4 linked regions of the Homo sapiens genome follow. The protein of the gene in region 2 interacts with the protein of the main gene of each other region in a biochemical or structural test. Each region holds a gene or a part of one and is shown on either strand. Other genes may lie near its edges. The genes, in order: TGFB1I1, GIT1, LRIF1 and PPFIA1.

Region 1 (7,631 bases), on a different chromosome or scaffold from region 2:
AACCCCTAGGCACAGCTGTTGTCAATCACATCTGCTCAGTCAATAAAACAAGGACCAGTGAACCCAGTCCAGACTCTGACGGAGGAAGAGAGAGCCTTTGTAGATGCCTGAGAGATATTGGGTGGAGCCACAGAGTGTTTTGTGAAGATCAGATGAGATGAGGGTTTGTAAAGGAGCTGGCACAGTGCCTGGCACACAGTAGGACCACAATAAATGGTAACATGGTTGGAATTTTCACCCTACCACTAACCTGCTGTGTGGTTCAGAGCTTCAGTTTCCTCATCCATAAAACATAAGTAATAATGATACCCACTTCCCAGATTAACTTACTAAAAGGGAACAGCATAAAGCCCAGCTCTCACTAAAGATGGGTCTGTGACAGGTCTCTGCCTCCCTTCTCACAAGGCTCCACTTACTTGCCCAGCAATAGGTTTATTGCAGGAGCCACAGAGGCCTTTGGCCTGGGTGGGAACACCCCGGCGGCTGAGGTCGGACTGCAGCAGCCCCAGCATGGTGTCTAGGCTGCCCTTGCCAGTCGGCTCTGGTGGGGATGGGGAGCCCTCATTTGTGGAGCTCACCACCGGTGGCTGAGTTGGCCCAGAGGCTGGAAGCTGCAGCGGGGAGGACATGAGAATTGAGTCAGCAAAGCAGCAGATGTGGAATTGTCTAGAAGGGGTTGGGGAGCCACAAATGGACACTGGCCCACTGCCCAACTCACATGGTTTTGAACGCGGAAGTCAGAGAGTGAGGCCATCAGTCTATCCAGCTCCAGAGTGGCTGAGGTGGCAGAAGCCTTTGGGAGGCCAGGAGACGGGCTGGAAGGGCTGTGAAGAACATGCTTGTGTCATCTCAGAGCCTCCCAGAGCAACGCTCCCTCTAGTGACTCAGATATCCAGGACTCATCTCTCAGCCCTGACAACGACGCCAAACTCACAGGCTGGGTCTTTTCTTATCTTCAGACTGGTCCTCCTTCTGCTCTCCTGAAGCCACCTTGCTAGATGGGAACTGAGACATGATTTCATCTGGAGAGAGGAGAGGAGGACGCTACATATAGGGCCATGCTCAACGCACCCTCACACTTGAGGCTTTAGGTCCCTTTAACTGCTACTCTGGGAAGTGTATTCCTCTTAGTCTCTGCCCCACCCTTCCCTCCCCTGCCCCTATCGCATCAAGGCCTCTCTCAGTCACCCTGGTACCTGTGATGTTGAACTGAGTGGCATTAAGTTCCTGAAGCAACCGATCTAGCTCACAGAGCCCGGTACCCAAGACACCGCTGGAAGAGGAGAATGGAGGGGCCGCCGGGGCTGCAGGCTTTGGGGACCGAGGCTTGCATACCGTGCTGGGAAGCAGAGTGGGAGCCTGGGTTCAGGGGTGGGGAATCCAAGCCTCCTCACCTGAGACTCAGTTGGCCCCCATGCCCTGGTTTCCAGGCCCCTCACCTGTACAGGTGGTCCTTGTCCCCCGAGGCTCCTGAAGACTCCCCAGACCCTGTCTACAGAGCGGAGACGCACAGGTGGGATGACAGGCCTGCACTCTGCCCCACTGAGGCTGAGATCCCCATAGACCAGGCCGAGCCTGGCCCTAGTGGCTGCCCCAGTCCCCAACATCCGATCTCACCTGTGGCTGGTGGCCATAGGATGGGGGAGGGGTGAGAGGCTCCGCAGGGCGCTCTTTGGGAGCCCCTGACCTTGGCATGTGCGAGGTGGTAGTCTCCAGGTCAGAGAGCAGGGCATCTGCAGGAAGAGGCCATCAGGGAGAGAGACAAGGGTCACGGTTAGATCAGAAGATAAGGTTCCCAGTGGGCAGTACTGGAGAAGGACAGAAGCCAGTATTAAGAGAAGAGGTCACAGGGCCAGAGCCAGGCAGAGCACTGCTCGAAGGGTAGCAAGGAATATTTATGACCAGAATATCCCAGTTGCTCACGCTTGGAGCCAAGCACAAACCCAGCCTCCTGATTATTTTATTCTCCCCATCTTCTCTGATGCAGTCAAAATGGGCTCTTCACCCAAGCCAAATTTGGCTCCCCTCCAAATTGCTCCATTGGCCCAGTGCCTGGCCCTCAGCTTTCTGATTGGACGCTCTCTCTTCCATGCTGGTTAACTCCTCCCTCTACCTACACAGGCCCCGCCCAGCCTGGCCACTCCCAGGCCCCTGAGTCCCGCCCTGGGCTCCTCACTGGCGCTTCGCTGGGACCTGCCTTCTGATTGGCTGTTTATCTGCGGTACAGCGTCAGTTACCCCTACCGAGCAGCGCCCTCTACCGCCAGGGGCCGGAAGCCCCTCTCTCCCGTGGAGCGCACAGCCTTCCAGCCCCAGGCTTCGCAGGGAGGACGAGATACCTGGGTCCCCCTTCCGGACAAGACACCTCTCTCCATCCCTGCATCCCCAGATCCGGGTCTTTTGAGCCCTTTCACTTCCAGAACCCAGAAGTCCTGCCCTCAGTCTTCGTCTCTGAGCACCCGCGTGAAACCCTGAAGCCTTCGCGGGCGCCTAGGCACTCCTGAGTTACTATTCTCTTCCTTGCCTCAAGGACCTGACCCTCACTGTGCTCAGGAGCCCTTAACTCCTCCTCTCCCAAAACTCTGGTGCAGGCAGGCCCGCTTTTTTTCTCCAAAACTTGATGCCAGACTTTCCCGTGCCCTCTACTTTCCCGGTCCCCGGGCCGAGGCCCCTTTAACCCCTCCCTCCCCAGAGCCCCGCGCCCGGGCGCCCGCGGGCGCCGCACCTCCCGTTCCATCTGCCGCAGCCTGGGATGGAGGAGCACAGCGAGGGAAGAAGGGAGGGAGCGGCCGGCCCAGGAAAGGCAGGAAGGGAGAGGCAGGAAGGGGGACGTGGAGTTGGAAAGGAGGCGCGGGCAGAGGCGAAAAGCAGAAGTAAGAAGACAGGGATGGGGAGATGCGGGAGAGCGACGGCGGGGAGGCAGCTCTGGGCAGCGGTGAGGGGCCACGGACCCGGGGATCCGGCCCCACTCACCCAGGTCCTCCATGGCGGGGCGCGGGCCGGTGGCGCGGGGCGAACAGGGCGGGGGCCGTGTCCGGTGGGGGCGGGGGGCGGGGGACGTCCGGGAGCTGGAAGCCCGGCCGTGACCATGTAAGGAAGCCGGGACCCGCTGAGATGGGGATGGGGGGGCGATGAACGGGGGAACCCGAGGTGGGGGCGTGGAAAGGAGGGAGCGCCCCGGCCCACCCGAGCCCAGCCCGCCGGCCTGCCGCGGAGGCGGCCACACCCCAGCCTTGGCCTCAGCTGCAGGGAGCCCCAGGAGGCCAGAGCCAGAGAGAAGTGGCTTCTCCAGACCAAGCCCCAGAGCCGCTCCCTAGGGAGACTTACAGACACGGACTGAGGCCCCCAAACAGACACCGCTCAAAGCTAGCGCCTGAGTCCTAGACAAGAGCCTCCCTCCCACCCATGCCATTCCTGGGAGACTTGTCCCAGACGGAATTTTTGGATTGGTAGCAGGAGTGATATTCTAAGGCTCAATTAGACCTCAGGTTCGGAGACCCTCCCATCGGAGACCCTGACAGATAAATAGAGGCCCCAAGAGGCATACATACCAGACACAAAGAAATCTGAGGGACGGGGACAGACACAGTGAACCCACCCACAGACTCTACACTAGGACCTTCCCTCCAAGACTTGGTCATGGACACACGTAAACTCGAACCCGGGCGCAAGCCCCTTGCAAATTCGGGGAAAACACTCCCAGGCAACCAACCCCCAGCCAGCCTGCAAGACAAAGCCCTTCCTCAGCACTGAGGTGGCCCAGGCCTGCTCTGAAACAGCCCTTTCCCAAGTTACTGATGAACTCAGAGCAGAAAGCAAGACACAGTCTCCAGCCACAAAGTGGCAAGGCCTTCCCTGGACTGAGACCCTGAGAAACGAGGTGGAAACGAGAGGCCATAGAGGTAGTTATGGACAGACAACTGTGCTGCAGCCACTCTTCTGGACAGATCTGAGCACTGGAATGTGAGTATCAACCCAGCAGCAAATCGGAACAACCTGGGGAGCTTTTTAAAAATGCGAGACAGGCATGGTGGCTCACACCTATAATCCTAGCACTTTGGGAGGTCAAGGCGGGCAGGTCACTTGAGGTCAGGAGTTCGAGACCAGCCTGGCCAACATGACAAAACCCCATCTCTACTAAAAACACAAAATTAGCTGTGCGTGGTGGTGGGAGCCTGTAATTCCAGCTACTTGGGAGGCTGAGACAGGAGAATTGCTTGAAACCTGGAGGCAGAGGCTGCAGTGAGCTGAGATTGTGCCACTGAACTCCTGAGCAACAGAGGAGACCCTGTGTCAAGAATAAAAAAGAAAAAGAAGAAAAAATGGGCAAACGACCTGAATAGACAGTTCAAAGAAGTTATATAAATAGCCAATGATTACATGAAAAGATCCTCAACATCATTAGTCCCCAGAGAAATGCAAATCAAAACTACAATGAGATGCCACATCATACCTATTAGGATGGCAATAACAAAAAAGACAGGTAATTAGGCAAGGAGCAGTGGCTCACACCTGTAATCCTAACACTTTGGAAGGCCGAGGTGGGTGGATCCCCTGAGGTCAGGAGTTCGAGACCAGCCTGGCTAACATGGTGAAAACAGTCTCTACTAAAAACACACAAAAAAATTAGCCAGACATGGTGGTGGGCACCTGTAGTCCCAGCTACTTGGGAGGCTGAGGCGGAAGAATCCCTTGAACCTGGCAGGTGGAGGCTGCAGTGAGCTGAGATCGTGCCACTGCACTCCAGCCTGAGCAACAGAGCGAGACTCCATCTCAAATAATAATGATAATATTTTAAAGGCCAGGCTCAGTGGTTCACGCCTGTAATCCCAACACTCTGGGAGGCCGAGGCGGGCGGATCACCTGAGGTCTGGAGTTGGAGACCAGCCTGGTTAACTTGGCAAAACCCCGTCTCTACTAAAAATACAAAAATTAGCTGGGTGTGGTGGCAGGCACCTGTAATCCCAGCTACTCGGGAGGCTGAGGCAGGAGAATCACTTGAACTCGGGAGGCAGAGGTTGCAGTGAGCAGAGATTGTGCCACTGCACTCCAGCCTGGTGACAGAGTGAGATTCCGACTCAAAAAAAAAAAAAAAAAAAGCTGAAAAGAAAGAGGTAATTAGCAAGTTTTTGTGAGGATATGGAGAGATTGGAACCCTCACACATGGCTGGTTGGAATGTAAAATCGTTCACTAACTTTGGAAAATGGTCTGGCAGTTCCTCACATGTTTAAACATAGAGTTATATGATCCAGCAATTTCCCTTCTAGATATGTAACCAAGAGAAATAAAAGCATATTCCACAAAAAAACTTGTACATGAGTATTCATAGCAGCATTATTCATAATAGCCCGAGTGGAAACAACCCAAATGTCCGTCAACTGATGATTGAAGAAATGAAAGTGGCATATCCATGTCTTAGTCTGTTTTGTGCTGCATCGTAGAATGCCTAAGGCTGGATAATTTATAAAGAATAGAAATATCTTTCTTTCAGTTCTAGAGGTTGGGAAGTCGAAGGTCAAGGGCCCTGCATCTGGTGAGGGCCTTCTTTCTGCCTCATCCCACAGCAGAAAGCAGAAGGGCAAGACAGTGCAAGAGAGGGGGTGGGGTGGGGGCAGAACCCATCCATTTATCTATCAGCTGTCCACTCCCTTGATAACTAACCTACTCATGCAATAATGCCATTAATCCATTCATGAGGGAAGAGCCCACATAACCTAATCACTTCTTAAAGTTCCCACCTCTCAACAGTTGAATTGGGGGTTAAGTTTCCAACACATGAACTCTGGGGTACATGTTCAAACCACAGCAATCCATAAAGTGAAACTGTATTATTCCTAATAAAAAGAAATGAGATGCTACAGTGTGGATGAACCTTGATAACATTAAGCTATATGAAAGAGGCCAGATATGAAAGATCACACATTGTATGATTCCATTTATATGACATGTCCAGAATAGGTCATCTGTAGAGATACGATGTAGATTAGTGATTGCCTAGGGTTGGGGGAAAGGGAGTGTTATGGACTGAATGTTTGTGTCTCCCCCACATTTATACATCACAGTTCAACCCTCAGTGTGACTATATTTGAAGATAGGGCCTGACTGGGCGCGGTGGCTCACGCCTGTAATCCCAGCACTTTGGGAGGCCAAGGCAGACAGATCACCTGAGGTCAGGAGTTCGAGACCAGGCTGGCCAACATGGTGAAACCCCATTTCTACTAAAAATACAAAAAAAGTTAGCCGGGCATGGTGGCACCTGTAATCCCAGCTACTTGGGAGGCTGAGGCATGAGAATTGCTTGAACCAGAGAGGCGGAGGCTGCAATGAGTCAATATTGTACCACCACACTCCAGCCTGGGTGACAGAACAAGATTCCAAAAAATAAAATAAAATAAAATAAAATACCGATGCCCAGTCCAATGTGAGCAAAAAGACCCCAGGCATCAATAGTTTTTCAAAGCTCACTGCTTGGTTCTAATGCATAGCCTGAAAACCAGAGACCTGGACCAACACTCACAGAGGCTCAGAGACAGCAAGTGCCAACCTCAGCTGCCCAGAAGCAAACCTTGGCAGGCCCAGTGCAGCTCTCCCCAAAATCAGGCTGCCACTGAGGAGTCAAAAATCTGCAAGCCAATTATTAAACAGTAAAAGAGCAACAGATGTTGGCATGAATGTGGAGAAAGAGGAATACTTATACACTGTTGGTGGGAATGTAAATTAGCTCAACCTCTCTGGAAAACAGCATAGAGATTTCTCAAAGACCTACAACTAGAACTATCATTTGACTCAGAAATCCCACTAACGAGCATCTACCCACAGGAAAAGAAATCATGTAAAAGACAGCTGGACTCATTGTGTTTATTGCAGTACTATTCACAATAGCAAAGTCATGGACCCAACCTAAGTATCCATCAATGGGTGACTGAATAAAGAAAATGTTGGCTGGCACAGTGGCTCGTGCCTATAAATCCCAGCATTTTAGGAGTCTGAGGCAGGAGAACTGCTTGAACTTAGGATTTTGAGACCAGCCTGGGCAACATAGCAAGACCCTGTCTCTTAAAAAAAAAAAAGGAAAATGTGGTACATATACACCATGGAATAGTACACAGCCTTAAAAAATGAAATAACGTCCTTTGCAGGAACATGAATGGAGCTGGAGGCCATTATCCTAAGTAAACTAACTCAGACACAGAAAACCAAATACTGCATGTTCTCCGTTATAAGTGGGAACTAAGCAATGGGTACACAGGGGCATGAAGATAGAAACAGACACTGGGGACTCCAAAAGGGGGGCGGGTAGGTGCGGGGCAAAGGCTGGAAAATTGCCTAGTGGGTATAGTGTTCACTCTTTGGGTAATGGGTTCACTAGAAACCCAATCCTCCCCAGTACACAATACACCCGTGTAACAAACATGCACGTGCCCCCTGAATCTAAAGCAAAATAATAGTCAAAAAAAAAAAAAAAAAAAAAGATCTGGAAGCCAGATGATGGAGACCCTGCCTTGGAGACCAAAGCAATGTGAGCCCTTCCCTCCCCTCAACGCCAGCACAGGTCTTTGTCTGTCTCTGGGCATGACTAAGACAGGGCTCAGAGATTCCCTCCACAGCAGGTCTTCCCTCAGACAGACAGC
Region 2 (6,965 bases):
CTCACCAGAGATACCTACAGGACAGGCATCTTGAGGCCTTCACTCTCACCCCCAGGGTTGCCAAAGTGGAAAAGGCTGAGATAGAAGCCCATGGGGTGAGGAGAGGCCCTTGACTGAGATCGTGTGGCGAGGTGGGCCAAGCCTAAGGAAAGGGGAAGATGCACATTCTCCAGGGCTCCCTGCCCCCTTCCTCTCTTGGACTCCCCAGGCAGGCAGGAACACATACGGTGCCTGACGAGGTGGCACAAGCTGCCAGAGCAGCCATGTCATGTCCAGCTGCCTAGCAACACACTCACACTTGTCCTGTGTGCCCATGCCCGGGAGCAGAGGGAGGATGGGGCTCTCTGGGGACAGGCTGCATCTCACCTCTGACCTCCATGACCCCCCAAATTAACCAAGCACAAAAAGTCCCTGGCCCCACTCCTGTGGTTAGGACTGCAGGGCTCCTATCATAATAAAAGAAGCCTGTGACCCTGGGGTGGAGCGATACACCATGGGGCTGGCACTGGATCTGGACTCCGGACTGCTGGGTACCCTCATGCCTCTCTGCCTGAGATGCCACAGGACCCAGACCAAACATGCCGCTGCATGCCAGGGCCAGCATCCTAGGGTCCAGGTGTGGGATAGTCCCAAGCAGCCAGCCAGGGTCCTAACAAGCAGCCAAACACTCAGGGAGTGCCTGCCATGTGCTGGACACCTCGCTGGGTGCTAGGTGGGCTGATGAGTAAGACTGTCCACATCCTCCCCACCCCACCATCCTCACCTTCTCACCACCTTCCTGACCTCTATTGTGAATCAGGGGAAAGGAGGCATCTGGGGCACAAATTCCTCTGACAGATGAGGACCTGGGAGGAGGAGCTGGGCAATCCAACACATCTGATGCCCACCATTCCTCCCTGAGCCCACTGGGCATCCAGAGGCTGTGGTCGGACATTCAACGCAACATACAAAGGACAACTGCCTTGCTGGTGCTGCCCTTCACCCCTCCACCCCAGAATCAGACCACAGATTCGGAGATGGCAGCCCCCCAAAAACCATTTCTACTCCAACTTCTTTGCCTCTGAATTGAGGAAGCTGAGGACCCCACAGTGAGGAAAGTCTTGTTGGGATTACAGAGTAAGCTGGGAACAAAGGCAACACTAAGCCCCAGACTCCCCCGATTGGGCGCCTGCTAAGACTCTCCTCCACATTCCATGCCATGCTTACCCCACGGAGTTGTGGAACAGTGGGGAGACATTTATAAGGCAAGGTGCATCCTCAGCCCTGCCATCCCCAGACCTGCCTGCAGCTCGGGGAACGGAGTCACAGTTTCTTAGGGGTATGGACCCTCAACCCCAGGGCCCTCTAAACCATGATAAGCCCCTAGGAGGCCTTGGTCATAACCACCTATGGAGTATTTTGTGCCCAAGCCCTGCTAAGTCATAGTTCCCAAATACTCTAGCTTGGCACCCCCAGAACCACCAGAGCATCTGTGAGGCTCAACCGGTGGGGTCCTGGGCCTGCTCAAGGGGTGGCTGAAAGTTATGGGCCCACAAACCAGCACCCCATACTCTCACTCTTAATCATGCCCACAGCCCCGCTAGAGTTCACGGACCTCCGCAGCCTGCCCAGGGGCCTACCAGGGAGATAGCTCCTTTGCTAAAGAAAGAATGGATGTGGGCTAGAGCTTCCTTCCCAGGCCAGCTGCAGAGCCCCGTCACTGGCTGTCCTCCCTCATCAGAAGGGAGCAGCCTCTTGGATCATTACCCCTGACTTCCTCAGCAGGCCTGGGGGGTTTCACTCCAGCCCAGTCCTAACTCTGTTAGGAAAAGGAAGGGAACCACCATGTAAATACAGCCAGGAGACAGGCCAGGAAGCCAGCAGGATACGGGGAATCTCGGCACGGCCTCCCACCCATTTCTGGCCAGACTGGGCTAGGGGACAGGGAGGGGCCCGCACCCAGGATAGCTTGATGCCAAGCTCACTTTCCCAAGCAGGCCTTACCGGTGAACAGGAACAGCAGGGTCCAGCCGAGCTGTTCCCAGTCACCACCAGCAGGCCTGGGGATGCCTCCCGAGAAGACACCCGGGTCTAGACTGGCCCTGAACGCCAGGCCCGGCAAGGAGCGCTAGCCTTAGGAACCCGAGGCAGGGAGTCCTGGGAGTAGCCACCGCTCATCTGCTCCTGAGGAGACGGTATTCAGGCCCCACTGGCGCATCTGCCCGGCCCTCTGCTCCTTGCCCTCCACCACCCCGGCAGGCGTACCGACCACGCGAGCAGCAGGTGCAAGACGCGGGGGTGGCACTGAGATGACATAAAACCACACTCGCCCCCACCTCCCAAGCCCTGACGGCCTCCGCCACGGCCCTCCTGCCACCCCAGGCTGGCGCTTCCGTCGGATACAGAGATGGAGGTGGAGGAGCAGCCAGCTGCCCGCCTCCCTCAGACCGAGGAGCGGGAGGCGGCGCCGGGAACGTCCTTCCTCGCTAGTCCACGGCCTCCAGGGAGCATGGGCACCCCAGGCCGGCCCTCCCGCCAAGGGCGCAGCTCCGCAGTGGCCGAGGCGGGGGCCCAGCCTGGAGGCCGCAGCCCCCCGCCCCGCCCAGCCCTCCGGCCCCGCACAGCGCTCTTGCCAGGCCCCGGCGCCCGCCCGGCGGCGGCCTGGCTGTGCGGTCCCGCCCCCGGCCCCGCCGCGCTTACCCGGGGCGCTGCAGTCCGCACACACCTCCGCTCGCGGCCCCTTTCGGGACATCCTCAGCGGCGACGCGGCCGCAGCCCTCTGGGCCAGCGTGGGGGGCGCGGGCGGCGGGCCCGGGCGGCGGCGGCGGCCCCTGCTGCCCGGCCCGGCTCCGGCGAGGCCCCGGCGAGGCTCCGCGCGCCCGGCCAACCGTCCGCCCCGGGGCTGGCCCGGAACCCGCCGTGCCCGCCTGCCCGCTCGCCCTCGGGCGCCCTCCGCCCCGCGCCGCCCCGCCGCCGCTCGCGGCTCCTCTCTCCGCCCCCTGCGCGGCTCCCGGCCGCTTCTGCAGGAAGCGGCGCAGGCCCTGCCCACAGGGGGAGGGGCCGCACCCCCGCCCCGCCGCGCGCTGCCGGCCGCGCCCCCTAGAGAAAGGAAGCCCGGGCGCGGGCAGGAGGGGGCGGGGGCGCTTAAAGGGGCCGCGGCAGATGCCCGGCCCCGGCGGGCAGCGTGGCCTGCGGCCCTGGCCTCCGCTGCAGCGCTCGCCTGGCCCGGAGGCAATGTGAGTCACCCTCACAGCCCCCTCCCCTTCACTTTCCGCGTGGGGTGGACCGGGGGACGCTGGGCCCACGGACGGCGAGGGTGGGGATTAGGGAAGAAGGACTTGGAGGCCCAAGTCCCGCTCCAGGTCAAAGGGGCTGTGCCTTGGGGTACCCGTCTATCTCTGGTTGGGGTGAGGTGTGCGTCCCTGTCCCGTAGGTGTCCACATCTGTGTGTCCAGGGGTGTGTGTGTATGTGTCACACTCTTGCTGAATACGCCCACTGCTAACAATATGGACGCCCAGGTGCCAGAAAGGTCAGGCAGTGTATTCCCCTGCCTCCGGACTAAAAATATATCTATCTCTCCATGCATCCTTCCATCCAGAGAGGAGAGAATCTGGGCGGTTTTTAAAGACCTCCCGAGGAGTGACCACTGTGCCTGTGTGCACTCACATCCACTTGTCATCCGCCTTACACACACCCACGGTGTTTCTGGGCCACCAGAGGTGTGTGTGTCCAGAAAGGGTGCATATAACATAGAGGGGCCGTTTCAGGTGACGGCCTTTCTTCCTGGACTTCACACGACGAGGCAGGCAAAGGCAAGGCAGGTGAGGGACGTGGGTGGGCTGGGGGGCAGGGAGCCTAGGTAGAGGCCGCACATGAGCGCAGCCCCCGCACTGAGCATGCGCCCCCATACGCGTGTGCCGCGCGTGTACCCAACCCCCAATCCCTGCAGCAGCAAAAGGCCCGGGCACTCTGCTTGTGGGGAGAGGGTAGAGGTCCCCAGGGCCAGACCTGGGGGCCAGGTCAGTGGTGACAATTGAGGAGGGGTTCTCCAAGAGTCAGAGACTCCTGCTTGTTAAGATGGGGGCAGTCCTTTGGCAGGGGTGCTCAAGTTGGTCGATTATCCCAACGGTGCCAGAGCGGCAGTGATTTGTGGGTGGGCAGGCTCCTTCCCTAGGGGAGACAAGTAATGCTCATGAGTCACACCACCCGAAATACATGCAAAGCTGCCTCCATCGCCTTTTGCTGCGGCCCAGATTGACAAGTTTGTTTGAAATCGCGATCCATGGGCTTTATTTATAATTGCACCTTAAAAAAATCTTGCAGGCCTCCCCTCCCTCGACAGCCAGCCGCTCAGCTGGTGGGGCTTTTGCAAGCAACGATACCTAGCTGGTGTGTAGGGGGGAGCACCACCTGCCGCCCCGAGCTGCTCTCTCACCAGAGTCCATGGGCTTGGTGGCCTCAGCGGGAAGGGGGTAAGGGGCGGGGGGAGTGAGACGGGAGGAGTGGCCAGGCAGCCCGTGCCAGGCGCTCAGTCCACGAGCGGTGGCCGCCCGTTCACCCCCGATCGACCCCCAGCTATGGAATTTCATTTATTAAATGTCGAGGAGGCTGCTGGCAGCCCTGCCGCTTGGCTGTCTTTGTTTCTCCGCTGTGTGGGCGCGTCTCGAGCACGTGGCAGCTGAGAGCGCGGGCCGAAGCGCAAGCGACCTGGGTTCAGTGTCTACCGCCGCCTGGCAAAAAAAGAACACGGCCGCCCAGGGGACAGTTCCCCACAATCGACAACTCCCCACAATCCATCCTGAACTCCCCCTGTCCTCGGACTCCTGGGCTTTGCTGGGGAAGAAGGATGATTCACTCTGCTTACCCCTCCACCCCACTCCCCATCTCCTGGTTGGCTCAGAGACTACCTGGGAGTGGCCCTGGCGCGGACACATCGTCCAAACTTTGTTTCCCCCAGCCCCGTCACAGCCAAACTTCTGGGCCTGGGACTGGAGATAAAAGGGTTTCTGGATTCCCCCGTGGAGATGTCACCACCCCAGGAAGCAGGACTGCTACAGTGGAATCACACACAAGGTTCGAAAAACAATTTAATAAGGAAATGCACAGGCATGCTCCCGGCCACTCCTAGATGCCCCTCAACCGCGCCAGCCCCCTCCCCTGCACTGGCTGCAGCCACGACACTCTGCTGACCCCTGGTGGTGCAGGCGGGCAGCGGTCCCGGGCCCCCGGAGACGCCAGCTGGCTCCTCCCAGGCGGGAGAAAGGGGCGAGGCAGCCCGCTCCTCCCTCATCTCTTCCCGCTGGGGCCTGGCACCACAGGGTGTGGAGGAGGAAGGAGGGAAGACCACACAAAGAAACCTGAGAGAGTTTGCAAGCTTTTGCTGGCACCTCCCACACAAACACTTCTTGGATTGTTGTTTTAAGTAGGGCCGGTGTGGAATCCCTTATTCCTGCCTTGTTCTGAGGTGGGCTCAAGAAGGCACCGTGCCTGGTCCCGCCACCTGTCTCGGCCCGCCTGGTTGGGGGAGGGAGGCGCTGTTTCCAGGGCAGTCATTATCCTTAGCTCACCCCAGGAGGTAGTATCTAGATTCTCATTTTGAAGGGGAGTGGACCGAGAAAGTCGGAAAAATTAAGCAGTTTGCTCTTTTAAGGTCAGGCAGTTGGAGCTATTCGAACTCTGGTCTCTCTGACATCACAGTCCCCTCCCTCCAGGGACTGGTCCAAGCCTCTTGGTCCTTCCAGGCCTTGCAATTGGCGCTTGAGAGGCCAATTCAACTTTTACCACACCCTCTGCAGGGACCATTCTGGAAGTACCTCTTCACCCTGGGGTCATTCAGGAAGGAGACAGTCTCTGGAATCAGTCACTTCCCTTCCTGAAGGGCCAGCTGGGTGGAGGAACGGAGCTGCCACCTGCTGCTTTTTCTGTCCAACCTCACTCTGGTTCTTGCTGGGGACAGTGTGCGGGGGGAAAGGGACCATCTTTCCCGCGTTACTGGACATTCTGTTTCCAATGACATGTGTGGAAGATGGAGTTTAATTTTCTAACAGGGCAGGGAAGACTCCTCAGAAATGTTCCAGGGGCCAGACCCCTGGCTGCTCCAATGACCCTTGGTACTGATGCCCCACACCTTTCTCAGGAGTTCCCAATCAGACGCTCTCTTCTGGGAATCCGGATCCTTCTTCATGGCCCCTGGGACCCAAGCTCAATTCTGAAGACCACACCTCCACCCCGTCTCCCAAACGCTCGACCTAGGCCCGTGCCCCCCCACTTCCCCAGCAAAAGGCAAAATGCCAGCGGGGGAGGTGCGTCCCAGCCCACCTGGCGTCAGGGCCCCGCCCGCGTCTGGGCCAGGCCTGACTCCCCGCCCACTCTCCCACGAGATCCGGGGACAGTGCAGACCCTCTTCGGCCACCTGCCACCCCCAGTTTCACGAGGCGGACTACAAACCCCATGATGCCGCGGGGCTGAGCTGACAAGCTCTACCCGGGGCGCCTGGTCCCCTTCCTCTCTCCCCATCATCCCCACATCCCCGTATCCCGCGCCGGCCGCTCGGGCTGAGGGCCGGGCTATGCAGCTGTGGGGACCCGGGGGCTGCGGGCGCGCGTCCCTGCGGCGGCGTCCCCGGGGCCCGCGTCCCGTGCGCCCCCGCGCCCGCTGCGGGCGCCTGCTCCCTCCGCCGAGCGGCGTCTTTGTGTGCGGGGGTGTGGGAGGCGAGCGCGAGTCCGCGCAGCGCCGCCGAGTGCCCGCTCCCTCCCAGGGCGGGTGGGGGCCTCTCCGCGCCGCCCGCCGCCGCCGCCTCGCGAGGACGCCCGTCGCCCGCGCCGCCCGCACCGCGCCGGGCGCGCCGCCCCCGCCCGCCGCCGCTCGCACATGCCCGAGCCGCAGCCCCGCGAGCAGGCAGCGCCGGCCCCCCGCCCCGCGGCCCCGGGCCCCGGCTCCGGCGCCGTCCCTCCTCCCCGGCCGGGCGCCGCGGCCCCGGCATGAG
Region 3 (7,827 bases), on a different chromosome or scaffold from region 2:
TTTTCTTAAAATACTCTGACCTATTTCCAATAGATGAAGTCTAATCTCCTTAGCAGGGCAAACAGAACCCTTAAGAGCTATCTATCTATCCTACTTGTACAGAATCAAGCAACAAGTATCAATCATAAACCATACACGTCCTTTATTTACCAGTTCTCTGCATAAGCATATCCTGCTTTTATCTTTAACTGGATAGCTGATACTTATGTTTCCCAACTCAGCTGTTCTTGGAATCTTTCTTCCAACTCCCTTTCTCTACTCTCTTCCTTTACTACATCAACTCTACTTTCCTCCTCCTCCACCATGACTGTAAGGTTTTCCCTGGCAACAGCCCATATCCTATTATTAATCAGTCTTCCCATTTAGCACAGTCTATCACATAGATAGTAGGCACTAAATGAATGTTTTTTCATCAAATGTTTAAACTGTATTGATAGTAAGTGGTAAGCTAGGATATGAACCCAAGTCTCTATGACTTAAAAGGTTCTTTCCACTATAGCGTTCTGACTCCTGCTTTATTCTTCGACAATAAAACCCAAATCAATATAAATTAAATGCATACCATCACAAATATCTTCCAGATTTTTCCTTTGTACTCTAAGATTAAATTTGGGTTTTACATGTGATGTTCTGATGAATTAAGAGATACTTCAAACAATATACAACAATATACAATTCTGTATTATGCTACTGAAAAATTTTAAATAAGCAGTAACAGGAAATATTTAAGCTACAAACAATAAGAAAATCATAGTCATTTAAGTTATAAAAATAAATGATTTAGTACCATCAAACATGTTACCAGAAAAATAAGAAAACTAAGTTTCCAATAAACTACAAGGGCCGTTAATATTATTTACAAAATTATATTTGGATGTTTTATTACTTACAGAACAGAATGGAATCAAATACGCAACCATTAACCAAAGTAAATGTCGAAGCTTCAGAAAGTCATCTGGTAAATGTCCCAAATATATGATGTAAAACCTCAATGATTTAAATAAATACATTCAAAAATAATAAAAACAATGCATAAATCAATGAGTTAATGAACTCAAAATGACTTATGAATGTAATTTGTAATTTAAAAATCTCCAAATCCCCAAAAGGATTAGAAACTGGATAACAGAGTTAAGGGTACACACACACACACACACACACACACACACACACAAAGTAAAGTTGTTTATCTTACTTTTTGTATTTAAAAATGCAATCCTAAAACAAATTTTCTATAAATTAAGCTAAGTCAGAAGTCAGTAAGTATTCAGGTACTAAAATAAGGCTGCAGAAATTAATCATTTAAAAAGTAATTCTACTTTCTCATATGTACACAGGGCACTCTCTGCCCCTTCCCCCAAACTTCCACCACAAAATTAAAAAAAAGAAAAAAGAAAAAAACACACAAGTACACCAAAAAATGGCTCTTTTTATGATTTGAAATACAATGGTTCTATCTTGACAGTTCAACAGAATTTTGGCTCATTACTATTAGTGACCATTTCCTTTTATAATATTGCTTTTAAGGACTCACCATTACTTACGGTCTTTATTGCAATGGAGTTTTCTACTTGCAATTAAAGAAAACTACCTGCTGGGCTAAAATCTGTACAGAATTAAAGTTGTATGCTTATAATAGTAATAGTTAACATTTAAATTGTGCTTTACTATTTTCCTACACGACGTATTTTACATTATTTCATTCTCCTAATCTTTAAAATATTTCTAAGTGCTATTATTTACAGACTGGAAACAGGTACCTGGCCTCACAAATGCTAACTAGCAAAGTTGAGATTAACCCCAGGTAGCTTGATTTTCTTCAAACGAAAATCCTCTTCCATGAGTTTTGCATCTTAGTTCTTCATTTTCTTATTAGAGTCTGCAGACCCTATTTTTTCCTCATCACTTAATCTACTAACCATGTGAGAGTACAAGTGAAAATATTCTGCTTTAGCTAACATTGTTTCCAATTCATTTCCTTGTAATACAATTTAAAAAAAAAAACCCAAAAACTAAGTTACTGATCATCTATTTTCTAACTTTACAAGAATATCTTCCTTAGAAATACTGGACTCTCCTCATGCCAAATATAAATAGCCAATGAAATGGCACTTCATTACACCCTACTTCAAAAAGGCTGTTCAAAAGGACTGACTTTACACGAGGATTTCTCCAGTCTTACTTCTCTCTCTTCACATAAAACTATTACTTGAAATTTTAAATATTCGATCTCCTCATTCTAAAGCCCTTTTTCTTCAATCACACACCCTTTCTGTCTCACTATTAAAATCTATTTTCACTGAAGGTCCAGCGCCACCAGGGCTGCACTTGCTAATCCGTGCTGACTGCTGCGTTTCTGCGTGTGCGTGAGAATCTTCCAGAAGGTTTGAGTCACATAAGAGCGTCGGCCATCTTGGTTTTCATCTCCCGTGGAGATCTACTCGGTCCGCCTATTAAACTTGAGACGCTGGGGTCCCGCGGAGCCGCTGTGTCAGGCTCTAAAGAGGTTTTACATTTCCCAGAGGAAAGCGCTCTATGGGCTTTAAGCGCCGCGGAGACAAGCGCTTCCCGCCTGGGTGGCGCACTCTGCGGGCTCCAACTCCTCTCAACTACACAGCGTCCGGAAACGACGGCCGACTCCACATCCCTAAGACGGACAGAGGGGCAGCCGTGGGGAGGATTCGAAACCGGTACTTACCAACGCGAGGCGTTGCCTGAATTTTCCTCTGCGGGTTTCAGGAAGACCCTCCGTAGGTTATTTGACATTTTAGTGGGGAGAAAGGGGACACCTCATCCAGAAAAGTGGGAAGCGTGGGGCCGAGTTTCCCAATGGGGCGAGAACCAGAGCGAGGGAATGTTGGGCTGGAGTTGCCCACAGCAACTGTGAGGGGTTCGACCTTAACGGAGGGCGACAGCGGGCTCTCGAGAGGGTGTATCCCCAGGCTTCGGGACGAGGTCGCGCACCGCGCAGAAACCGGAAGGCTCCTGGCGGTGGACTGCGCCCTCACAGCCCTACGCTGAGAGAGAATCGGCGTGAGTCTCCGCCCTCAGAGCCTACGACAACTCTCCAGACTCCGCCGGAGCAGGCGCAGGGGGCGTGGCCTTGGTGGCACCACCCCCAACAGAGCCTGGTCAGTGCTGAAGACTGCGTCAGTCTGGCTCTGCCGCCCCGCCCACTGAAGCCGATAGCTGGAGCAAAGCTCGGTCGGGCGTCTTCCGGGGTCGTCACGTCCGGTTGCCAAGGTGACTGGCTCGCTAAAGCCCAACCCTTATGATGCAATCCAATGGCAAGTGATATTTGCTATCTTTTCTTCCGGATCAAGGAACAAATCGCAAAAGAAAGCTCTCCCGACACCTACGCAAAATAAAATGTTTCCGGGGTCAATCATAAATTTTCTGCTTCTGTGCTCGCCGCTAGCGTACGTTTTTCTCTCCCGTCAGTGCATTAAAAGACATCGGCGCGCTTTTTTGGAGTCATGCACTTCTGGCCTGAGAAAACTTAAAACGCCTGCCTGTGGCCAGCGATTATTGTTGCTGCTTCTCTGAAGGTTTCCCATTTACTCCTCTTTCCTGAAGCTTTGCCTCTAGACTTACTTAACTCTTTCCTCCAGCCTACGTTCATCGAAACTATCACTTATTGTCATATAGACCTTTATTTCTGAAGGGAGATCTGGGAGTTGCATCAGAACATCCATTGTATTCATTAAATCATTTATTCAGCTGTCCATTGCAGTTGATGCTCTTTATCTCACACTATTTGAGAATTTTTCCTCGCAGCACTATTAATTAGTCCCTCATCTTGACGCCATTGGCAATATACTTTCCTGGTTTTGCTCCTACCTTTTTGTCTACACCTTCTCAATCTCTTTTGAAGATATCTCCCTTTTCAAGGGAGTTCCTTTCAGCTTGATCACTGATTCTCTTATGTTTTCAAACTGTCTTGTCTCGATTCGTGGTTTTATTCATGCTCCTGGATTGAATTACCACCTCCACCCATTATTTTACCACCAAACACATGTATGTCCTTGGCACTGATTTAAGTGTTTTACAAAATTAATTTACTCCTAACAGCTAATAAAATAATTATTATATGCAGATGAAGTAACTGATGCTCAGAGAGGGTGAACAAATTTTTAGAGGTCATAGAGCTTGTGAGTGATGGAGCCAGGCTCCAAATCCAGGTTGTCTGGCTAAACACACCATGTACTACTGCATTATGCTGCCGTGTGACTCATAAATTTATGTTCCCAGTTCTGATTTCTCTGAGATCTATACCTGGATGTTCAAGTGAATTGTTGAGATATCCTTTTTGCTATTTTAAAAGCCCCTTCAAATGAAACATGTTCAAAACCACACTTATGACTTGCTTCTCTTCCCCCCACTACACGTTTTCTTTTATCAGTGCTATCTCAGAAAGAAAGAAAGAAATAACTTCCTTCCATTAAAGTTGCCTAAATCCCAGTGTCATCCTTAACACTTTCCTTTTTTTATTCCAAAATATACAATTCACCAACTTTTGCAGATTTTATCTTCTAAATATCTTACAAGTCTGCTTTATATTTCTATTACTACTACTGTAGAGCAAGCTTACTTGGTCTAGTAAAGCTTTAACGGATACCCTCATATCCACTCCTTTTTTATTTATTTATTTTTTTAGAGGGAGTCTCACTCTGTCACCCAGGCTGGAGTGCAGTGGGCAATCTCAGCTCACTGCAAGCTCCGCCTCCTGGGTTCACGCCATTCTCCTGCCTCAGCCTCCTGAGTAGCTGGGACTACAGGCGCCCGCCACCACACCCAGCTAATTTTTTGTATTTTAATTAGAGATGGGGTTTCACTGTGTTAGCCAGGATGGACTCGATCTCCTGACCTCCTGATCTCCCCGCCTCAGCCTCCCAAAGTGATGGGATTACAGGCGTGAGCCTCATATCCACTCTTGTATTCCTGTAAATGCTGCAGCCAGAGATACCATATGGAAACACAAATCTGATGGTGTCATCTCACTGCATTAAAAAAAAAAATCAGTTTCCCCATTGCTCTTATGATAAGGATCAAAATCCTTGATTCTTTTCCTTTTTTTCTTTTTCTTTTTTCTTTTCTTTTTTTCTTTTTCTTTTTTAGACAGGGTCTCACTCTGTCACCCCAGACTGGAGTACAGTGGCGTGATTTCAGCTCACTGCAATCTCCATCTCCTGGATTCAAGCGATTCTCGTGCCTCAGTCTCCCGAGTAGCTGGGATTACAGGTGCGCACTACCACGCCTGGCTCATTTTTTGTATTTTTAATAGAGACAGGGTTTCACCATGTTGGCTAGGCTGGTGTCTAACTCCTGACCGCAAATGATCTGTCTGCCTTGGCCTCCAAACGTGCTGGGATTACAGGCATGAGCTACTGTGCCCAGCCAAAATCCTTGATTCTAATCAAGATGTTGAACTAGTACAGACGGCTGACACCTGGAGAAATAAAAAAAAAAAAAGGAAGTTTAGATTTTTAGGAATTAACAGCAACAACCACCACACACACACACACACACACACACACACACACACACACACAAAAAGCAGCTGTGAAAATTTCGATCTGTAGGACATTTTCAGAACTGGTATGTGAGTGTATAGAGTGTTACAGGCTAAAGCCAAGGGCCACCACGAGAAGCAGAGGGTGGAGGCAACTATTTGAATTTTTCTCTTGTAACAGATATGATCATTAATTGTCCTTTGAAAATAAACCTGTAGCAATAGCCAAGCCCCTGGTATGGACAGGATAAAGTCAAGGCAGGAAAAACCCATGCTAAGGTAAGGCACTGATGAAAACAGATGCAGGATTACCTGCCAGTGTTGGGAAGTCACTACTCCATCCTTTCCGCAAAACCACCCTGGCTGGTATATTATAAATAGGTAACTTGACTTTTATCAGTGTGGTCTTGCACTACAATTTAAATATAACTCTTACCATGGAAATTGCCTTTTGGAGTGGAAGCTAATTGGTATGATCAGCAGTGCTTCTTTGAATTCCTTAGGACATACACTTTTCTTCTAAATTCATTGGGAAATGCAGACTGAGGCTTAAATATCTTTTTGTTGTTGTTGTTGTTGAGACAGAGTCTCGCTCTGTTGCCCAGGCTGGAGTGCAGTGGCACGATCTTGGTTCACTGCAACCTCCGCCTTTCAGGTTCAAGTGATTCTCCTGCCTCAGCCTCCTGAGTAGCTGGGACTACAGGCACGCATCACCTTGCAATTCAGTTAATAAAGACTAGTTTAAAGACATATTTAGAAATGAAATGACTGTTACTAAATTAGCATTACAAAAACAGATCAAAAATGTTAAATGTACAATCAAGTTACATGGAAAATTAAAGTAATAGAAAACTACAGTAGACCCTGCTTATTCAGTTTTACCTTCTGTAGTTTCAGTTACCCATGGTCAACCATGGTTCAAAAATATTACATGGAAAATTGCAGAAATTACCAATTCACAAGTATGAAATTGTGTGCCATTCTGGGTAGCATGATGAAATCTTGAGCTGTCCTTTTTTGCCCCACCAGGGTGTGAATCATCCCTTTCTCTAGCATATCCCCACCTGTTAGTCACTTAGGCGCCATCTTGGTTTTCAGATCCACTGTCATGGTATCACAATGTTTATGTTCAAGTAACCCTTATTTACTTAAAAATGGCCCAAAGTACAGGAGTAGTGATGCTAGCATGTTGTTCTATTTTTATTATTAGTTGTGATTAATCTCTTACTATGCTTAACTTATAAATTAAACTTTATTATAGGTATGTATGTATAAGAAAAAAAAATGTAGCCCGTATCCAGTCTGGTACTATTCATGGTTTTAAGCATTCACTGGGAGTATTGAAACATATCTCCCACAGATATACTACAGTATATCAGTGAAAATCAGAAAAAAATGAACATATTTGGGGGATGAGAGTGAAGCCAAATATGAACTAAAATAAACACACTAGATGAGATAAATAGTTGAATGCATGCAGCTGAATAAAGAATTAGGAGACTGATAGAAGAGAGTAAAGAAAATGTTGGAGGGCAGTAGGAAAGGATAAAAAGAGAGCAAATATAAAAATAAAAGTTAAAATTTGTCTAATAGAAAAGTAGAAGTTTCAATATCTGGAAAATAGGATTGCAGAAGGACAGAAATTAAAACAAATATTTTTTAAATCTAAAAACTATTTTTCCAGAATTAAAGAAAATAGAAAGATGTCAGTTAAAGCATGTCCTAAGGTATCAAGTGAGAGAAATAAGAAAAAAAAAACATGCCTTAAGAAATTAAAACTAGAATATCAAAAAGAAAAAAAAATAAAGCCCTCAGGGAGGAAAAATGTATTATTTTCTGCATACCAAATAACCATATATTTCTGCATAACAAATAACCATAAATTTAGCAGCTAAAAATAACAAATGTCAGTTAGGAGTCTAGGCACAGCTTAGTCAGGTCCTCTGCTATAGAGTCATTTACAGGGCTGCAATCAAGGTGTTGATCAGGGCTACTGTCTCATCTGAAGGCTCAACTAGAGAAAAAGCCAATTTCAAGCTCTTTTGTTGTTGGAGGGATTCAGTTCTTTGCAGCAGCTGGATTGAGGGCCTGTGTTTCTTGCTGGTTGTTGGCCAAAGGCTGCTGCCCTCAGTTCCTTGTCATGAGGGTTGCCAAAGATAAACCCAACTGGACATTAGTTAAAACATTGAAACAGATTTTATTCAGTAACTACTGATAGTAAGAGAAACAACTGAGTTCCACTTTTATTTGTGCAGAGGTGATTGGGTGTTTTAAAGGGAAAATGAGGGACCCATGAGCAGAGGCTCAAGAAAAGT
Region 4 (6,229 bases), on a different chromosome or scaffold from region 2:
ACTCCCCCAGCCTGTCAGCGTGTCGCCTCCCCTCTGCCACCCTGGGCTGCTTCACAACTCAGGACCGGATGTGAGCTATTAGGGAACCAGGCTTCCTGATTTCCAGAGGCCATCAGTGTGGAAGGGTGCAGGCCTGGGAGCCACCTTTGTGAGCAGGCAGGGAGAGCAGGTGGGAGTGTGAAGCCAGCACCGAGGAAGGAAGCAGAGCTGGGAAACGGTGTTAAGGGACATGCGTGCATGCGCGCGGTCCACGGCCTAGGCTCTGCCTTTGGGCCCTACCCACCGACTGTGTATGTGAGCCCCCACATTTGCATTTAACAATTTAACACCAGGCACCTGTCTCCTGCAGTGATGCAGGCTCGGGACCTCCAGAGCAGCGGGCAGGATGACGCCCTGAACCTGCACTTCATCTCCTGGCTGCTTTATTCTGTCAATTGACTTCTGTAATACAATTTCCATATGGTGACACTGCCTTCCAAAACAGTTAGAGCTTATTCTCAGTATTCTTCATTGGCAGTGGAAAATGCTTCAGTACTTTATTGAAAGAAAGCAATAAATAATACTGTGATAAAAATAGTTCAAAAGTAGACTGTACATACTTTGTTACATAATCAGGAAGTTGACAAAAGATTAATAGAAAAACAGAACAGTAACAATGAATTGTACAAGTAAATTAAAAGCAGAAACCAACTGAAAAGACAGGCTGCCTCTGTCTCTGGATCTGCTGCACAATAAATACCACGCCATGGTCTGACACACTTTGCTGGCTTGTTAATATGCCATTTAAAAAGTAAAAGCCACATCTGCAACTTACACAATCCAAAATGGCTAGAGCATCAAAGTCTAAAAATGTCCCACTAGGTTCGTTCTTTAAACATGTTTACAAACAAATGTAAAAAGATGATTTACATAAGAAAAATAAGGCCTTTATTAGAGCTGCACTGCACTGCTTTCTGGGTCTCCTGCCTTCATCCACTGTGTGCGCCGACTTGCAGGATGAGAGCGTGGTGCTTGGTGCTGGCCCTAAGGGGAGCCACATGGGTGTCTCTCCACCCGCTCCCAAGGAGCAGAGGCAGGGAAGAGGGTGCAGGGGCTAGACTGGTCCCCAGGTTACCCCATCCCGAGTCTCTCCAGCTGAGAGAACTGCTCCCAGCTCACAGTCTCAGCCACTGAAGACAAGCTCCCCAAATCCAGAGACTAGGCTAGGAAAGCGTTAACCAGTGCTAGGGGCTTCTCATAGTGTTGTGATAGTGTTTTCAGTCCACATCTTATTAGGAGCTGATATTTAACACCAGCCATTTTAAATCTGTTCATGCTGCAGAATAAAGCATCTCTTGCTAGAAAAAGTACAGTTAAGGTCAGTCATGAAAATACAACAATTGCTTGAAATTAGGTATGCTTATTTCAGGATGATTGCTGTAGAGCTAGGCTGCGTCCGTAAAGGATAATGCACATGGCTTCTGTCATAATTTTATAAACGTAAAATCCTTTGTCATGGTTTATCATTAAAAAATTAATGATAATTACAATAAATGCATAATTTACAAAAGCCCTCTATTCATAGGATTTATACATACAAGCATTACAGTACATTCATTTGAAAGACTAAAATTAGGTATAAGAACATGATTTGAAAGGATATTTATAGCCTGGATATACATGAAAAAGTAAGTAACTATATAAATGAAGAGTCATAAGTTTACATAAATATAAGAAACATTAAATTCTAAAATATTTTCTCTATGGTATTCATGAATTTTTCACTAATTAAAAACTCTGTAATAAAATATCTTAGGGTCCATATAACAAGTATTAACAAGATTAAAGATTCCACTGGATTCCAAAATGTAGTCTTTGTTGGATTCAAATGCTGCATAATCATCTGTAGAAGTAGTGTGGGTAAACTGGAAAATAAACACAAACAAAAAACCACTCAGTACAGGCCGGGCCATACTGACGAACGGGAACTTCTGATGCTGGGGCCCAAACGTCCCCCCGACACTGACCCCTCCCCTCCAGGACCCCTCACTTTCTGTGCCGTAGCTGCTCTGAGAATCACTGGCTAGAACATCAAGGGCTATGCACATCAATGAGACAGCTCCTTGGCTGACTTCATTTTGGCTTACGTCTCCATGTTACCAATTACAAATAAAAGATGAACAAACCAGTCAAATATTCCAACGGAGACCTTAAAATTGCTTAGAACAGCAAGGAGAGGGCGGGCCACTCACCAGCCAGAGTCCGCAGTTTTAAGAACCAGTCTCTCCAAACTGAAAGGCTATTAGTGTCACACTTAGTATAATATATAATTAACCACAAAACTTTGGGCTTGTTTCATTCAAGAATGTGTATTTAAAACAAAGCAAGCTTAGGAATCACAGCAATGTGCATAACGACGTCAGGAGGAGAGACTCTCCCCTGACGCTCTCTGCCATGCTCTGCTCTCCTCCCCACTCCACCCCCATGACATCCACAGACAATTAAAATGAGTCAGCATTTTCAGGTTTAAGGAAAAGGTGAAAATACATTTTTTTCCTTAAAAAAAGAGGACACACTAACCTCTTTATGATCAATTGTAACAACAAAATGATCTTAATGGGTACGGAGAGCTTGTGTCTATATATATTTTAAATTCCCCAAAAACTGCACTGGCTTTCATGGTCCACACCCCTAGTCTGGCACTGCAGCTCCGATGACTCCTGCTGTGCCTCTGAGCCATCTCTAGGGGTTGTGGTGCTCTCTACTCACCAACAGGAGACTTTAGCAGGAGTAAGTCCTGACTGTAGCAGAATCCAACCTCTGTGTTCCTGATACATTGCCTGTTTCAACAGCCACGAGAGGAAGCGTGCAAACACAGCGTGCAGTTAGTCTTAGAACATCACATGAGGGCACAAGTAGACACACATCTTCACACCTACAGCAGTGCCTACGGAGGGACCTGAGGGGAGCTGCCTGAGTGGGCGGGATGGAGCCAGAGAGATCCAAGTGTCACCCAGTGGTGGCTCTCCCCAGCTCCCAAAGAGCCCCGGGAGACTCTGGAACACTACTCCGAAATACCAAGCACCAAATGGTACAGTAACAATTTCAAAATGTACATCTGCATAAATGACCCCTACTTAGAGTGATCCCTTTATCTCTTACTAAACTCTGCATTCATAGACCAATGGGGCTTTCTCCCTGCCCTAAGTGCTCCATCTCTAACACTGGTATGAAGGAAACACCAAGCGGCACTGCTGATGCTGCCCAGCCCCACTGAGCGCAGAGGCCAACGACGTCGGGTACAAGACCAGTCTAAGAGGAGGGAGAGAACCTTGCTACCCAGCACTAGCTGGGTGTCTGGGAAGCCGGTGCCCTTTTCTCCTGGGGAGGAGCAGAGCAGGTGCAGAGATCTGGCTGCAGGGGTGGGGCGTTGGCCAGGGAGTGGGGTGAAAGCTGATCTAAAAACTGAAGCCCAGTCTCAGTTCCTACCAGAAATATTAATCATAGAGACCACAGATTTTGGTTCTTGTTCAAGAAACACAGTGTGGCCATAAGTAAGCCCGATTTCCATTAACAACTGGGATTTTAAGTTTTTGCAAATCGGAAGCAGGTACTGGCTGCTCCCGGTTATGTTTTTTGTTTTCCCACAGGTATACCAGGAACACTTAATCAACATCCTGCATGGTTCCAGCAAAGACATTAAGACAGTTGGGACTGTTGGTGAGGACAGATGATCTTCACAAACCCTCTGACTCTTAAGAACCTGGGAGACCTGCTGGAGTTTACCCCACATTCCCTTAATTAAAAAGCCATTAAAATAGTCAACTTTGCTGGGCACGGTGGCTCGCGTCTGTAATTCCAGCAATTTGGGAGGTCAAGGCAGGAGGATTGCTTGAGCCCAAGAGTTAAGACCAGCCTGGGCAACATGGTGAGAGCCCATCTCTACAAAAAATTCAAAAAATTAGCAAGGCATGGGACCACACCTGTGGTCCCAGCTACTTGGGAGGCTGAGGTTGCAGTAAGCCGAGACTGAGCCACTGCACTCCAACCTGGGCAACAGAGTGAGACCCTGTCTCAATAATAATAATAATCCCTTTAGCAGGCTTGTGCCTGAGTTATTTAATGTAAGGGTAAAAAGTCTTCTTTATAATAAATTCCCTATACCTTTTAGGTTTACTTTTTTTTTTTTTTTGAGACAGAGTTTTGCTCTTGTCGCCCAGGCTGGAGTACAGTGGCATGATTTCGGCTCACTGCAACCTCTGCCTCCCAGGTTCAAGCCATTCTCCTGCCTCAGCCTCCTAAGTAGCTGGGATTATTGGCATGTGTCACCATGCCTGGCAAATTTTTTCTTTTGAGACAGTCCTGCTCTGTCGCCCAGGCTGGAGTGCAGTGGTGTGATCTTGGCTCACCACAAGCTCCGCCTCCTGGGTTCATGCCATTCTCCTGCCCCAGCCTCCCGAGTAGCTGGTACTACAGGCGCCTGCCACCGTGCCCAGCTAATTTTTTTTTTTTTTTTGTATTTTTAGTAGAGATGGAGTTTCACCGTGTTAGCCAGGATGGTCTTGATCTCCTGACCTCGTGATCCTCCCGCCTTGGCCTCCCAAAGTGCTGGGATTACAGGCGTGAGCCACCGAGCCCGGCCGATTTTTTTGTATTTTTACTAGAGACAGGGTTTCACCACGTTGGCCAGGCTGGTCTCACCACGTTGGCCAGGCTGGTCTCGAACTCCTGACCTCAGCTGATCCACCCACCTCAGCCTCCCAAAGTGCTGGGATTACAGGCGTGAGCCACCGCGCCCGGCCTAGGTTTACTTTTCATCCATCCAAACTCTCATTCTTAATATTCCTGTTAACATTTAACAAGGGAGATGTGATTTATCAGAAGGAAAACTGAAATTGAAGCCACAAGTAAAACAAGAAAGCACTCGTGGACTCCAGGTGACAGAGCTTGAGCTGAAGGCCAAGTCACAGTTCTGCTTTCTAAGAATTATATGCATGACTCTTGGAAGAAAAATGCTAATTTGTAAAAAGTTCCTAGTTAAAAGATATACTGGGTTTTCCCCCTTGAGTATATTATCAAATTCTGGCAAACAATAAATAAATAATACAGCTTTTTACTAAAAATGCCACAAAGTAAGCTATTCTCACCCAAAGCGTCCAGCTTAACTAAGGTTTTATTTAAATGTACTTTTCTTTTTATTTTTATACAGGTGATAGAGAACAAAATTTATGAACCTACGTACGGGAGGGACTGATGACAAAAAAAATTGGCAAAAACCCCATTCGCACAGTTTTCAATTATTATTTTTTTTTTTTTAGAGATGGGGTCTCACTGTGTTGCCCAGGCTAGTCTCAAACTTCAGCTCAAGTGATTCTCCTGCCTCTCAGCCTATCAAAGTGCTAGGATTACTGGTATAAGCCACCATGCTTGGCCCCTAATTAGCACTTAAAAAAAAATTTTTTTTTTTTTTGAGACAGAGTCTCAGTCTGTCATCAAGGCTAGAGTGCAGCGGCACAATCTCGGCTCACTGCACCCTCTGCCTCCCAGGTCCAAATGATTCTTGTGCCTTAGCCTCCCAAGTAGCTGGGATTACAAGCATGTGCCACCACACCTGGCTAATTTTTGTATTTTTTTTTTGTAGAGACGGGGTTTCGCCATGTTGGTCAGGCTGGTCTCAAACTCCTGGCCTCAAGGATTAGCACAGTTTTTAATGCCACTTCCTTTCCTCCAGTCTGCTCACTGGCCTCAGAAGTGAGCATGAGTGACCTGTGTGTAGCACAGGGGCTGCCAAACAGCCCCGACTGACACGGGCTCAGAACTTCACCAGCTTAATGAATGAGGCATTCAATCATCGCAACTACTCTATGAGGAAGACACTACCATGACGACCATTTTACAGATGGGGAGACCGAGGCCAGGGTAGTTAAATGACTTGTTCAGGGTCATGCACCTCCTAGTGGCAGAGCTGGAGTCAAACCTAGGCAGCCTGGCTCTTCAACCTGTGCACTGCCTTTCATTAGATGAGTACAAGGGCAGAGTTGAGAGACCTGTAAGGAAGCCATGGTCAACTGTTAACCTCAAATCAAAGTGGCCGTCTAAGGGAAAATCCCAAACTGCATGTGAAATCATGGCAGTGATGCTCTCTCTCTGGCTGGTATAGTCAATAGCTGCCTCGCTCCACTGGGGACTTCTTGGAGGTTCACCTTCCTCCCTTCCCTGCCCTCTAATGGGTAGACATGTGACTGCACGG

What was found.
Region 1: the proteins of GIT1 (region 2) and TGFB1I1 form a complex in vitro, tested with the Homo sapiens proteins (one study listed by BioGRID).
Region 3: the proteins of GIT1 (region 2) and LRIF1 form a complex in vitro, tested with the Homo sapiens proteins (one study listed by BioGRID).
Region 4: the proteins of GIT1 (region 2) and PPFIA1 form a complex in vitro, tested with the Homo sapiens proteins (2 studies listed by BioGRID).

The regions. Positions count from the first base shown.
Region 1 is NC_000016.10:31,467,543-31,475,173, reverse strand, and holds the start of TGFB1I1 (transforming growth factor beta-1-induced transcript 1 protein), read right to left. Parts: upstream 3,023-7,631; 5' UTR 2,986-3,022; coding exon 2,973-2,985; intron 2,967-2,972; exon of another isoform or gene 2,951-2,966; intron 2,772-2,950; exon of another isoform or gene 2,725-2,771; intron 1,970-2,724; exon of another isoform or gene 1,924-1,969; intron 1,734-1,923; coding exon 1,618-1,733; intron 1,493-1,617; coding exon 1,440-1,492; intron 1,340-1,439; coding exon 1,197-1,339; intron 1,023-1,196; coding exon 935-1,022; intron 825-934; coding exon 719-824; intron 612-718; coding exon 417-611; intron 1-416. UniProt on the Homo sapiens protein: Functions as a molecular adapter coordinating multiple protein-protein interactions at the focal adhesion complex and in the nucleus. Links various intracellular signaling modules to plasma membrane receptors and regulates the Wnt and TGFB signaling pathways.
Region 2 is NC_000017.11:29,586,648-29,593,612, forward strand, and holds the start of GIT1 (ARF GTPase-activating protein GIT1), read right to left. Parts: upstream 3,002-6,965; 5' UTR 2,732-3,001; coding exon 2,680-2,731; intron 1-2,679. Other genes in the region: ANKRD13B (ankyrin repeat domain-containing protein 13B), read left to right, coding at 6,549-6,965. UniProt on the Homo sapiens protein: GTPase-activating protein for ADP ribosylation factor family members, including ARF1.
Region 3 is NC_000001.11:110,960,923-110,968,749, forward strand, and holds the start of LRIF1 (ligand-dependent nuclear receptor-interacting factor 1), read right to left. Parts: upstream 3,001-7,827; 5' UTR 2,767-3,000; coding exon 2,699-2,766; intron 1-2,698. UniProt on the Homo sapiens protein: Together with SMCHD1, involved in chromosome X inactivation in females by promoting the compaction of heterochromatin.
Region 4 is NC_000011.10:70,378,678-70,384,906, reverse strand, and holds the end of PPFIA1 (liprin-alpha-1), read right to left. Parts: intron 2,820-6,229; coding exon 2,761-2,819; 3' UTR 2,749-2,760; intron 1,905-2,748; coding exon of another isoform or gene 1,879-1,904; 3' UTR 511-1,878; downstream 1-510. UniProt on the Homo sapiens protein: May regulate the disassembly of focal adhesions. May localize receptor-like tyrosine phosphatases type 2A at specific sites on the plasma membrane, possibly regulating their interaction with the extracellular environment and their association with substrates.